Regions from separate parts of the Homo sapiens genome. Here region 2 is linked to region 1. The links come from fine-mapping of genetic effects on gene expression. A gene starts in region 1. The other region holds a variant in brackets. All regions are shown on one strand. Distances are between the middles of the regions. Region 1 holds the start of PDE3A (phosphodiesterase 3A). Region 2 overlaps LOC105369688 (a long non-coding RNA gene).

Evidence for each region. PIP is the estimated chance that this variant, and not a neighbour inherited with it, causes the effect.
Region 2: its variant is fine-mapped to the expression of PDE3A in subcutaneous fat (TwinsUK, PIP 0.95).

What each region holds. Positions count from the first base shown.
Region 1 is chr12:20,365,532-20,370,911 of GRCh38, forward strand. PDE3A (phosphodiesterase 3A) reads left to right here and starts at 3,006. Exons shown (of 16, transcript NM_000921.5): 1 at 3,006-4,713. The coding sequence starts at 3,754. PDE3A-AS1 (PDE3A antisense RNA 1) reads right to left here and starts at 4,725. Exons shown (of 2, transcript NR_186033.1): 1 at 4,310-4,725. RefSeq lists a silencer at 4,044-4,338.
Region 2 is chr12:20,319,485-20,324,864 of GRCh38, forward strand. It overlaps LOC105369688 (a long non-coding RNA gene), which reads right to left. Exons shown (of 3, transcript XR_931419.3): 3 at 1,332-1,378. Among named protein-coding and RNA genes, the nearest start is that of PDE3A, 46 kb to the right of the region's middle. The variant A/G (reference allele first, on the strand shown) is at 2,288.

The DNA.
Region 1 (5,380 bases):
ATTATAAGTAGGGCAAGATCAGTTAGTTACTGCACTTGTCCTGGCCAAGGAAGATGATGGGTCTTTGGCAGGTTATTATAAGAGGGACAGTGAAAAGTAAATGGATTTAGAATATATTTTAGAGACAGGATCAAGTGGATTTCCTAATCGACTAAAAGTAAAACAAGATAAACAAAGGAAAGAATCAAGACCCGTTCCCTCTTCTGGGGCCTGAGCAACTAGGTAGATGGTTATGTTCTTTACTGGGATGTAACAAGATTGAGAAAATATAGTTTGGGTGGGTAGGGGATAGGTAGGAAGGGAATTGTAAGTTAAGAATTTTGTTTTGGATACCTTATGTTTTAGGTACCTATTAGATATAAATATATAATAATCAGATAGGTAGCAGAGAATGATTGAACCCATACTACGGAACGTAAACTTACTGAATTTTACAATAGAATCCCCTGACGCTTAACTATATTTAATAAAGCTCAAATGTGAAGGGTTAGATCCTTTTCCCAAAAAACTGTAAAAACATGTTTGCTAGATTTGACTAAGTGGAAGATTTATCAAGTAAAACTTAAATTTTTATTTCTGTTGTCCATGCTCTACTATTTTTCTGCACGTACAACATTTTCCTTATTCTTTGGCTGTGTTGTCACTTTCTTGAACTAGGACTCACCACTATCTGTAGAAAAGAGGCAGTGTTTATATGTGATTGCTCCCTATCCAGTTTATGTATTGCAGCTTATTTCATTTAATATACTCTGTTAAAGGTACATTATTAGTCGCTTCTTTCAGTTAGTATAGCCCTGCAGGTTTCTGCATCTCTCTAACATTAGCATTTTGTTGTCTTTGTTCACTTGCCTCTGGGTTCTGGATGGTATGGGGAGAAAAATCTACCTTCTTTCCTTTTGATGGGACAAATAACTTTTTGATTATGATTTGTTAAAGAAACCTGGATGCCAGGACATTGCCTCCTTATTTTATTGAAGAGTTCCAGGATGTTATTAACACATGGATTTAGAATATTCTTGTTTTGCTGCCATTAGCAAATGCCATTTTTTCCTGTTACAACTTTTAAAAAACATCTGCTTCCCATACCTTAAGTGTTCAGTTTTTATGATAATATTATATTAAATTTTCTAAAGAACTGAGATAATTGTGGGGGTAGGGGACAGATAAAATTGAAATATTCTAAAATTTCCCTTACTATGCTTTTCTTTTTAACCTTGATATATGCCAGATTTTTGGTTTATTATTTTAATATGTTATTTTTGATGCCAACAGATATGAATGATTTTCCAATCAAGGTTTTTCACTCCGATGTGTCCCAGGTAGGATCTGGCATATGAATCATATGTCTAAAAAGGAAACTCATGAAAGTATGTGTGCGTGCTAGGGGGCTCATTTGTCTTTGGCAAAGACATTGCTGCTCCTGTTTCCTTAATTATTAAACAGATGGTGCCCACTGCCATTGACTAGCTGCCCAACTCATACTCCTGTGTGGTAGCACAATTCTGGACATCTGACAGAGAGAAGCTATACCTTTATAGTATATCTGCCTTCTACTAGAACAGGCTGCTTCCCATGAAGCTGTTTAAAACTTAAGTCATCTTCTCCCCCTGTCCCCATAAATTAATTTTATCTCAAGGATCTCCTTTTGGCTTTTTTTATTGCTTCATGTCTACATACAAAATACAGTGGCATATTGAATCAATTATCTAAATGCTCTAGGCTGTAAATACACTTTAACCTGGAATGTCAAGATAATTAAGACAAAATTGGATTATTAAGATTATTATTAGTGAGGGCAAATGACATCTAAGATAGCCATGTTAAAAGTGGAGTATCATATTAAAAAGACAACTAGATCCCAGGGAACATCAATAGAGTTTAAGTCCATTGAACAGATACTGAATTCTTTTTCATAATCTGCCAAAAAAAGGTTAGCTTGAAAATTTTCTTTTAGTTTCTCAAATATCACACTGCTGCAGTACACGAACCTTTACTCATTAATAACTAAGGTCCTGATTTTTTTCATATGCTTTGCTCGAAGATGTAGTATTTTGCAGCCATAGACAGTCTTCTAAGATCTCTCCTAGTGTTAACCCACCTATCCTCACCTCTCCCTTGAGATTTTTCTTTATTTTTTGATGAACTATCTGGGCTTTTAAACTTTGTTAACCTTTTTTGAGGATACGGTCACTTAATCTCAATGTAATTTTACTTTCCACAGTCAAAAACTATTGTGTAATACTCATGCACTGGATTTAAATGACTGCTGCCTCTCCTTCCTTTCTTTTTATACTATTGTGGTCTAGGTAAGGCTGATTCTTCCATCATTTGAACCAACAGGCCAGGCTTGGGTTCTCATAAAGCAGACCTTCCAGCAGGAGCGACCAAAGGATGACACTGTCACCTGAAATTGGACTGCTGTTGTACCTGACTTGGGAACATCTTTGAATCAGACAGTAGAAGTGGCTGTCATTTTCAGGGACAGTAGAAAGTATGTTGGCTCTCATCTGCCAAGTAGGCAAACACAATCTTTTTTTTTTTTTTTTCCTTCCAACGTTCTAGGGAGCTCAGCCTCAGGGCTAGCCGCAGCCCCCCACACCCCGGGGCTGCGGTGGGCTGCGCGGTGGATCAGCCTCAGCAGCCCCTGCTCCAGCCTGTAGGGTGAACCGGCCGCTTTCCCAGCAAAGGAGCAATCGAGCTGAGGGTAGCGCCTCCTCCGCAGGAGGGGGCGGGAGCTCGGCTGAGAAAGCTTTCCTAGGGAGTTGCCTTAAAGAAAGAAAGCGGAATTGTCGATCACTCCAGTTGCCAGTTTTATACAATTTTAAGCAGTCGTCGCCACTCGTTTCCCCTTTGCAAAACTGCAAATCACCACCAACCTTGCATCAAATAGAAGTGGGGAGGGAAAAAAAAAGCAAATCTCCTTCTCCCTTCTCACCCTCCCTTTCTTCTCACCCTCCCTTCCTCTCTTACTCGCTCCTTCTCCCTCCCTCCCTTCTGCGGCTGCCGCTAGTCTCTCGGTCTGGCTCTCTCTCCGACGGGACTTAGCAACTTCTTATTTCTCAGCCCCTTGTCCATTTTTTTTTTTCCATCCTTTGCCATGAATTGGATTGACAGAGGCGGGGGAGGCTTTGCTTTCTGCCCCAGGGAATGGCGATTCGCGTCCTGGGGCCGTGCCGGGGAGAATCGGCCGAGGAGAAAGAAAGAGTGATAGAAAAAGAGCTGCAGGAAGGAGGAGAAGGGAGACCTCCATCTGCCGCGGGCCCGGCGCGCTGCAGCGCAGCGCAGCGCCGAGCTGCGCCTCGGAATGGCCCGGAGCCCGCCCTGCGCCCCCGGCTCCTCCAGCGTCAGCGGCTCCTGCGCGCGGGATGCATTGGGCAATTTTTGAAATCCTGAAGTAGGAAGAGACCCCGGAGGATATAAGTCGGGGGTGGGGGTGGAGCAGAGAATCTGTGAAAGATATTCAAAGAGAGAAAAGGGGAATCCTGATCGTTTCTGCCCGTGCTTGTTTTCAACTTGAGCGTGCTAGCCTTTAACTTGAAGAAGTCTCATTGGAGCATCTAGCATTCTCCAGGAGTTATTCGAAAGCTGAAACTTTCAGTGGATTGTGGGCCTGGGGAGAAGAAGGATTCCGAGGGTGGAATTGGGAAGAGCGTGCGTGCGTGTGTGTGTGTGTGTGTGTGCGCGCGCGCGCGTGGGTCGGGGCGGGGGCGTCGGGGGGCCACTGGGAATTCAGTGAAGAGGGCACCCTATACCATGGCAGTGCCCGGCGACGCTGCACGAGTCAGGGACAAGCCCGTCCACAGTGGGGTGAGTCAAGCCCCCACGGCGGGCCGGGACTGCCACCATCGTGCGGACCCCGCATCGCCGCGGGACTCGGGCTGCCGTGGCTGCTGGGGAGACCTGGTGCTGCAGCCGCTCCGGAGCTCTCGGAAACTTTCCTCCGCGCTGTGCGCGGGCTCCCTGTCCTTTCTGCTGGCGCTGCTGGTGAGGCTGGTCCGCGGGGAGGTCGGCTGTGACCTGGAGCAGTGTAAGGAGGCGGCGGCGGCGGAGGAGGAGGAAGCAGCCCCGGGAGCAGAAGGGGGCGTCTTCCCGGGGCCTCGGGGAGGTGCTCCCGGGGGCGGTGCGCGGCTCAGCCCCTGGCTGCAGCCCTCGGCGCTGCTCTTCAGTCTCCTGTGTGCCTTCTTCTGGATGGGCTTGTACCTCCTGCGCGCCGGGGTGCGCCTGCCTCTGGCTGTCGCGCTGCTGGCCGCCTGCTGCGGGGGGGAAGCGCTCGTCCAGATTGGGCTGGGCGTCGGGGAGGATCACTTACTCTCACTCCCCGCCGCGGGGGTGGTGCTCAGCTGCTTGGCCGCCGCGACATGGCTGGTGCTGAGGCTGAGGCTGGGCGTCCTCATGATCGCCTTGACTAGCGCGGTCAGGACCGTGTCCCTCATTTCCTTAGAGAGGTTCAAGGTCGCCTGGAGACCTTACCTGGCGTACCTGGCCGGCGTGCTGGGGATCCTCTTGGCCAGGTACGTGGAACAAATCTTGCCGCAGTCCGCGGAGGCGGCTCCAAGGGAGCATTTGGGGTCCCAGCTGATTGCTGGGACCAAGGAAGATATCCCGGTGTTTAAGAGGAGGAGGCGGTCCAGCTCCGTCGTGTCCGCCGAGATGTCCGGCTGCAGCAGCAAGTCCCATCGGAGGACCTCCCTGCCCTGTATACCGAGGGAACAGGTAAGCACTGGCAACTCCTCTCTCGGCTCTTGGAAACTTGAAACACTTGGCAACCGGCGCAGAGTGGAGAGAATCCGAGCGCTGGGAACTAAAGGGAAGATAGCCTAGAAAACTGGTCTAACTTCAGAATTAAGAAACTAGCAGGTTTTTTTTTTGTTTTTTTTGTTTTTTTTTTTTTGTTTTTTTGCCCTCTCTTTCACACAGTAGTTTTATAACCTGAACGACTGAAACACAATTAACAAAACTAGATGGCATGTGTAGGGTCTTCCACAGCTGGGCCAACTTTTTAGATCTGCTACACCTGGTGTATGGCTTGCCTACTCTTTTCAGTACTCTTACGCTTTCCTTCCTTAGCAGAAATTTTAGAATTAAGTTTAGATTTTAGCAATGAGTGATTTTTTTAACACATAGATTTTACTAGATTTCTACTTTTTAAAAAGTAAAATCTTTTTAATGAAATGATATTAAACATTTATGAAAACCAGTAAAAAGATTCTAGAGCAAAGCAAGCTGTGCTTGAAGGTGAGGAATTGATACACATTTTCTGGTTTTGCAGTAAGTTTTATTTGGAGAGACTGCAGCTGATGGTGCCCAATTTGTTTTTAAATATAATTTAGGGGCATACATTATTACATGCTAGTGTGTTTTGTATCACAAACTTCAACTT
Region 2 (5,380 bases), 46 kb before region 1:
AATGTCTTTGAAGTCTGAACTGCTTGCTCTCAATTTCCACTGCCACGGCTTTAATCCAGGCAACTCAGATAGAGGCGGCTTTGAGGAGCAGTGCCACAGTCTATTATTATAGCTATGTGTGAAGCTGACCCCTCTAAGCTTTCGTTTCCTCAAATATCAAGTGGAGGGTGAATTTACCTCAGAGTGTTGCTGTGAGATTAAATGGGATAAGGCATATAGCACATTTAGCAGATTCCTGCCATGTAGCAAGTTGAAGGTGAAGGACAAAAAAGAAGGTAAAGTTGTATTCCGGATAGAGAGGATAAAGAGTAAAATGCCTCAGGAACTTGAAGCAGCACAGCCCATTCAGGGATAAGAAACACTTGTTAAATATTAATAATTCTTCATAGTCATTGCTATTAGAACTGAGGACTGAGGACTTAATTATATAATGTTCATGGCTAAATAAGATTTACTCGATTATTTTTTTTTCCTTTGAGATGGAGTTTCCGTCTTGTTGCCCAGGCTGGAGTGCAATGGCACGATCTTGGCTCACTGCAACCTCTGCCTCCCAGGTTGAAGCAATTCTCCTGCCTCAGCATCCCGAGTAGCTGGGATTACAGGCATGTGCCACCACACCCGGCTAATTTTGTATTTTCAGTAGAGATGGGGTTTCTCCATGTTGGTCAGGCTGGTCTCGAACTCCCAACCTCAGGTGATCCGCCTGCTTCGGCCTCCCAAAGTGCTGGGATTACAGGCATGAGCGACTGCACCCGTCCTACTTGATTTTTTTAAATGCAAATAGAAGAGTCAATCCAGCAAAAGAACAACTAAATGCCACCATAGACACAGATACATACATACATTTGCACACCAATAGCATCCCAAGGGAAAATATCCTCAGTAAGCGGTCACCTGATCTGGCATTTTCAACCCTTAATAGAAAATTATGGGAAATGATTACCACAGCTACTTTGGCAACACTTTTAAGTTGTTTATTTACAATATTCAAAATTACAATTTTACAATATCCCTGTAACTCTCAACCTAAAATTGGAAATAATAATAAGCTTCAAACTGGGAATCGTTCTTGTTTTAGCCTTTCAACCAGATTTCACTCATTGGCAGTGATTCTTTCTTCTGACCCATTTCAAAAGCTGACTCTTTTATCTTGAATTGATTCCAGGTAATTGTATCTGCATCTGACCCTAGGGAAGGAACAGTCGTTTGGAACCAGTGCTATAGGGCAATAATCAGGAACTGTCTGAGACGGGCAGTGTCCAGTAGCTACCACATGACAAGAGATATCAGAATTAGAAAGGTCCCTCTGATATTCCTTGCTCTTGCTAAGAGAGACATCCGGTGTCAGTGATTCCATCTCCTCGTCAGGTCAGTTTTCCTGTGATCAAGAATAAGAAAGAAAGAAAAAAGACCTTTTATTCACTTGCTAACTGAAGCTGTATCTGTTTTTAACTAGCATTAAAATGTTCCATTCTTTGTCTAACTTACATGAATTACTCTTAGGCTTTCCTTTCACTCTTTTAAATAACAGTTTTTTTCTAGCCATAGTGGATATGCCTGTTTTCAAAATATAACTGCAAAGAGCTATTGCTGCTTCAGTGATTGTGGATTACAAGCTATTTAGGTTGTCACAGCAAATCCATTAGGGTAGAAATCTATAAGGTCTATTAAATGTGTAAACCGTGTTTAATAGTCTTTCACTTTGGTAGATGTTTATTTATAGTTATTTAGTTATTTATTATTTTCTAATTTTCCTTTTTATACCAGGGCCTTTTTGGTAGATGTTTATTTATAGTTATTTAGTTATTTATTATTTTCTAATTTCCCTTTTTATCCCAGGGCTTTTTTTTTTTTTTATTTTTAAAGAGACAGACGTCTCGCTCTTTTGACCAGGCTGACCTCCAACTCCTGGCTCAAGTGATCGTCTGGCCTCAACCTCCCTAATATCTGGGACTAGAAATGCACACCACTTTGCTAGCTTACCCAGGACCTATTTGAAATTTATTTATAGTTATTTAGTTATTCATTTTCTAATTTCCCTTTTTATACCAGGGCCTTTATTTTTTTTTTTTTTTTTTTTTTTTTTTCAGAGACAGAGGTCTTGTTCTTTTGACCAGGCTGGTCTCCACCTCCTGGGCTCAAGTGATCCTCTGGCCTCAGCCTCCCTAATATCTGGGACTATAAATGCACACCACTTGCCAGCTTACCAGGGCCTATTTGAAATTGATACCATTTGTAAAATTTCTTCTGGGTCTCTGAAATATAGTTTGTATAGCATCTTTTATAA[A/G]TATGTAGTTATAATATTTTTGGATGGTATCTTGCTATGGTTAATAAACATCAGCATATTTTAGTAAAAAAAAAATCAGGTTAGTTAGAACCCTGAATGATGCAGAGGGTAATATTTAAGAGTAGGTTTCAAGTAATAAAACTTGAGGAAGTTCTATAGTTCTATTCAAGAGGCTGAGGTGGGAGGATTGCTTGAGTCCAAGAGCTGTAGGCTTCAGTGAGCTATGATCATGCCTCTGCGCTCCAGCTAGTCTCTTTTTTTTTTTTTTTTTTTTTATTGTTTTGAGACGGAGTCTCGCTCTGTCGCCCAGGCTGGAGTGCAATGGCGCGATCTCGGCTCACTGCAAGCTCCGCCTCCCGGGTTCACACCATTCTCCTGCCTCAGCCTCCCGAGTAGCGGGACTACAGGTGCCCGCCACCACGCCCGGCTAATTTTTTGTATTTTTAGTAGAGACGGGGTTTCACTGTGTTAGCCAGGATGGTCTCGATCTGCTGACATTGTGATTCACCCTCCTCAGCCTCCCAAAGTGCTGGGATTACAGGCGTGAGCCACCGCGTCCGGCCCCAGCTAGTCTCTCAAAATAAAATAAAATAAAATAACTTCAGGAAATGTGAGGAATTTGGGTTTGTTAAGTCTAAGATGAGGTGACAGTGAGTGTTCCATAATGTTCTAGAACTTCAGTCTTTGACATGCAGTAGTGAAAAAATATAGTGGTATATAATAATACTATATTATTCTCAGGGATTGTGTCAGATCAATTGCTAACAATGGGAAGACCAGAGATCACAGTGGGGCTACCACTCCGAGACACTGGTAAACACCAGGAATACAGGGAGGTTGACTACTTTTGACACCATATAGATAAAAACAAGCTCAAATTCTTTTTTCTTTACTCAAGATACAAAATTAAAATGACAACACTTAACTGTTTTATTATGAAATGTTTATAAGAGGAGACTTGGCATATATGTACAATTTAAGAAAGAACAATAAAACAAATTGGCATATGCTTTCTACCTGGCTTAAAAAGTAGAAAATGAGCTGCAACTTAAGTATACTACCATTCATTCCTGTCTTCACTTTTTGGGAGTCAGTATTTTAAAACTTGTGTTCATCATTCCGTTAATTCTTTTTTGTGGTTTTATCACATATGTGCATCCTAAAAAATACACTATTTGGTTTTATCTCCTTTTTACTTTTATATGCTGATAATAAATTATGCTTTTATGTATACTTCGGTGACATTTTCCTGAATATTATTTTTGAGTTTAATCCATGTTGATACTCCAGTTCATTCTCAAACCAATATTATGTACAACTATATGAATTTAAGATGATTTCTTTATCTAGTCTCCCATCTATGATTTCCAGTTTTTGTCTACTTCAAATCATGCCTCTATTGACATTTTTGTGTGTGTCTCCAGATATGCATGTAGAGATAGTTCTCTGTGATATGTTCCTGGAAATAGAATTGGTGAGTTGTAGTGTACTCATAACCTTAACTTTATTGTAGCAGTGCCTAATTGTTTTCCAGACAAGTTGTAGCAATTTACATTCTCACAAGTACTCTAGATGTTCTTGTTCTATTATATGCTTTCCAATATTTGTTATTAATCATCGAAACTTTTCTCCATATCATGGATATGAAATGAGAACTTTATTTTGTTTTTATCTGTATTTCTTAACTATTAATAATATTAAGCATCTCTTCCTATGGATATTGCCTACTCCTATTTCTTCTTTTGTGAAATGCCTCTCATATTTTCCCTTTTTAATAATGAATTGTTTGCTCTTACATATTGCTTTATCGGAATTCTTTGCATATTCTGGAGATAAGATTTTAAGATTTTCTTAGTCATGTATTTTTAAAATATTGTTTCCTGAACTAATGTGCAGTTTATCTTTACTTTTTTATGTTGTCTTTCAATTGGAAGTTCTTCATTTTACTGTATTTGAATATATGAATCCTTTTCTTTATTGCTTGAGTGTTACATGCATTATTTAAGAAATTTTTCCCACTCTGTGTTCTCCTGTGCTGCCATTAAACTTTTTAAATTTTTCACAAGTAAGTTTTAAGGTATAGAGAAATAATTTGTTTGTCTGTGTGTGTGTATGAGAGAGGGAGAAAGAAAGAGAGAGAAGCAAGGTTCAGCAAGGTTCAAGTTTTATTTATCTTTTATAGACAGAAAATTGCCCTAGACTATTTGTGAATAGTTTATTCTTTCCTAACTGACCAAGAATTCTATTTCTGTCATATATGTCAAATAGCCATACACACATACATCTGGTTCTGGGCCGGCCTTCTACTTGGTTCCACTGGTTTATTTTTATATACCAGTATTACATTTTCTTTATTAAATTTTTTTTCATAATGAGAAAATAAGACACTTTCTTCTTCCTCCTCCTTCATCTTCTTCCTTATGAATATTTTAGCTATTCTAGATTCTTCGTTCTTGTGCATATGTTTTGGAAATAGCTTGTCAAATTCCAAGAAAAACTCTTTTGGAAATTTGATCAGAATTCTATTGAATATACTAACCAATTTGGGGATAATGACATTTTTTTTTAGTCTTTCTATTCATAAACATGGTATATGTTTCAATTTATAAAGATCTTAATTTCTTGTTTTTTAAAATTTCTATTTCTATTTATTTCTGACTACCGTGTATTTTTGGTTCCTATTGTAAAGAATACACTTGTTTAAATTAAATTTTGTAATTATTATTTATGGATATACAGAAATTCAGTTGGCTTTAGTATATTATCCTTAGATCTGGCAATCTTATTCTACTCTTAATTATTCTAATAATCTGTAGAAAATTGAGGTTGTTTATAGAGCTAATTATCTAATCTTCAAATAATAATAATTTTTTTCATTCCCAATTCTTAGGCTTTATTTTTGTTGTTTTGTTATATTAGATAAGGTCTCCCATATAGTAAAGTAGAAATGATTATAGGGCACATTGATGACTTATTCCTGATTTTAAAGAGAAAGCTTAACAATTAGTAAAGTTGGTTTGCTATCTACTTAGGACTTTTGCATTTATGCTCAGGAGTGAAGGTGGTCTTTAATAGTCTATTATTCCTGACTTC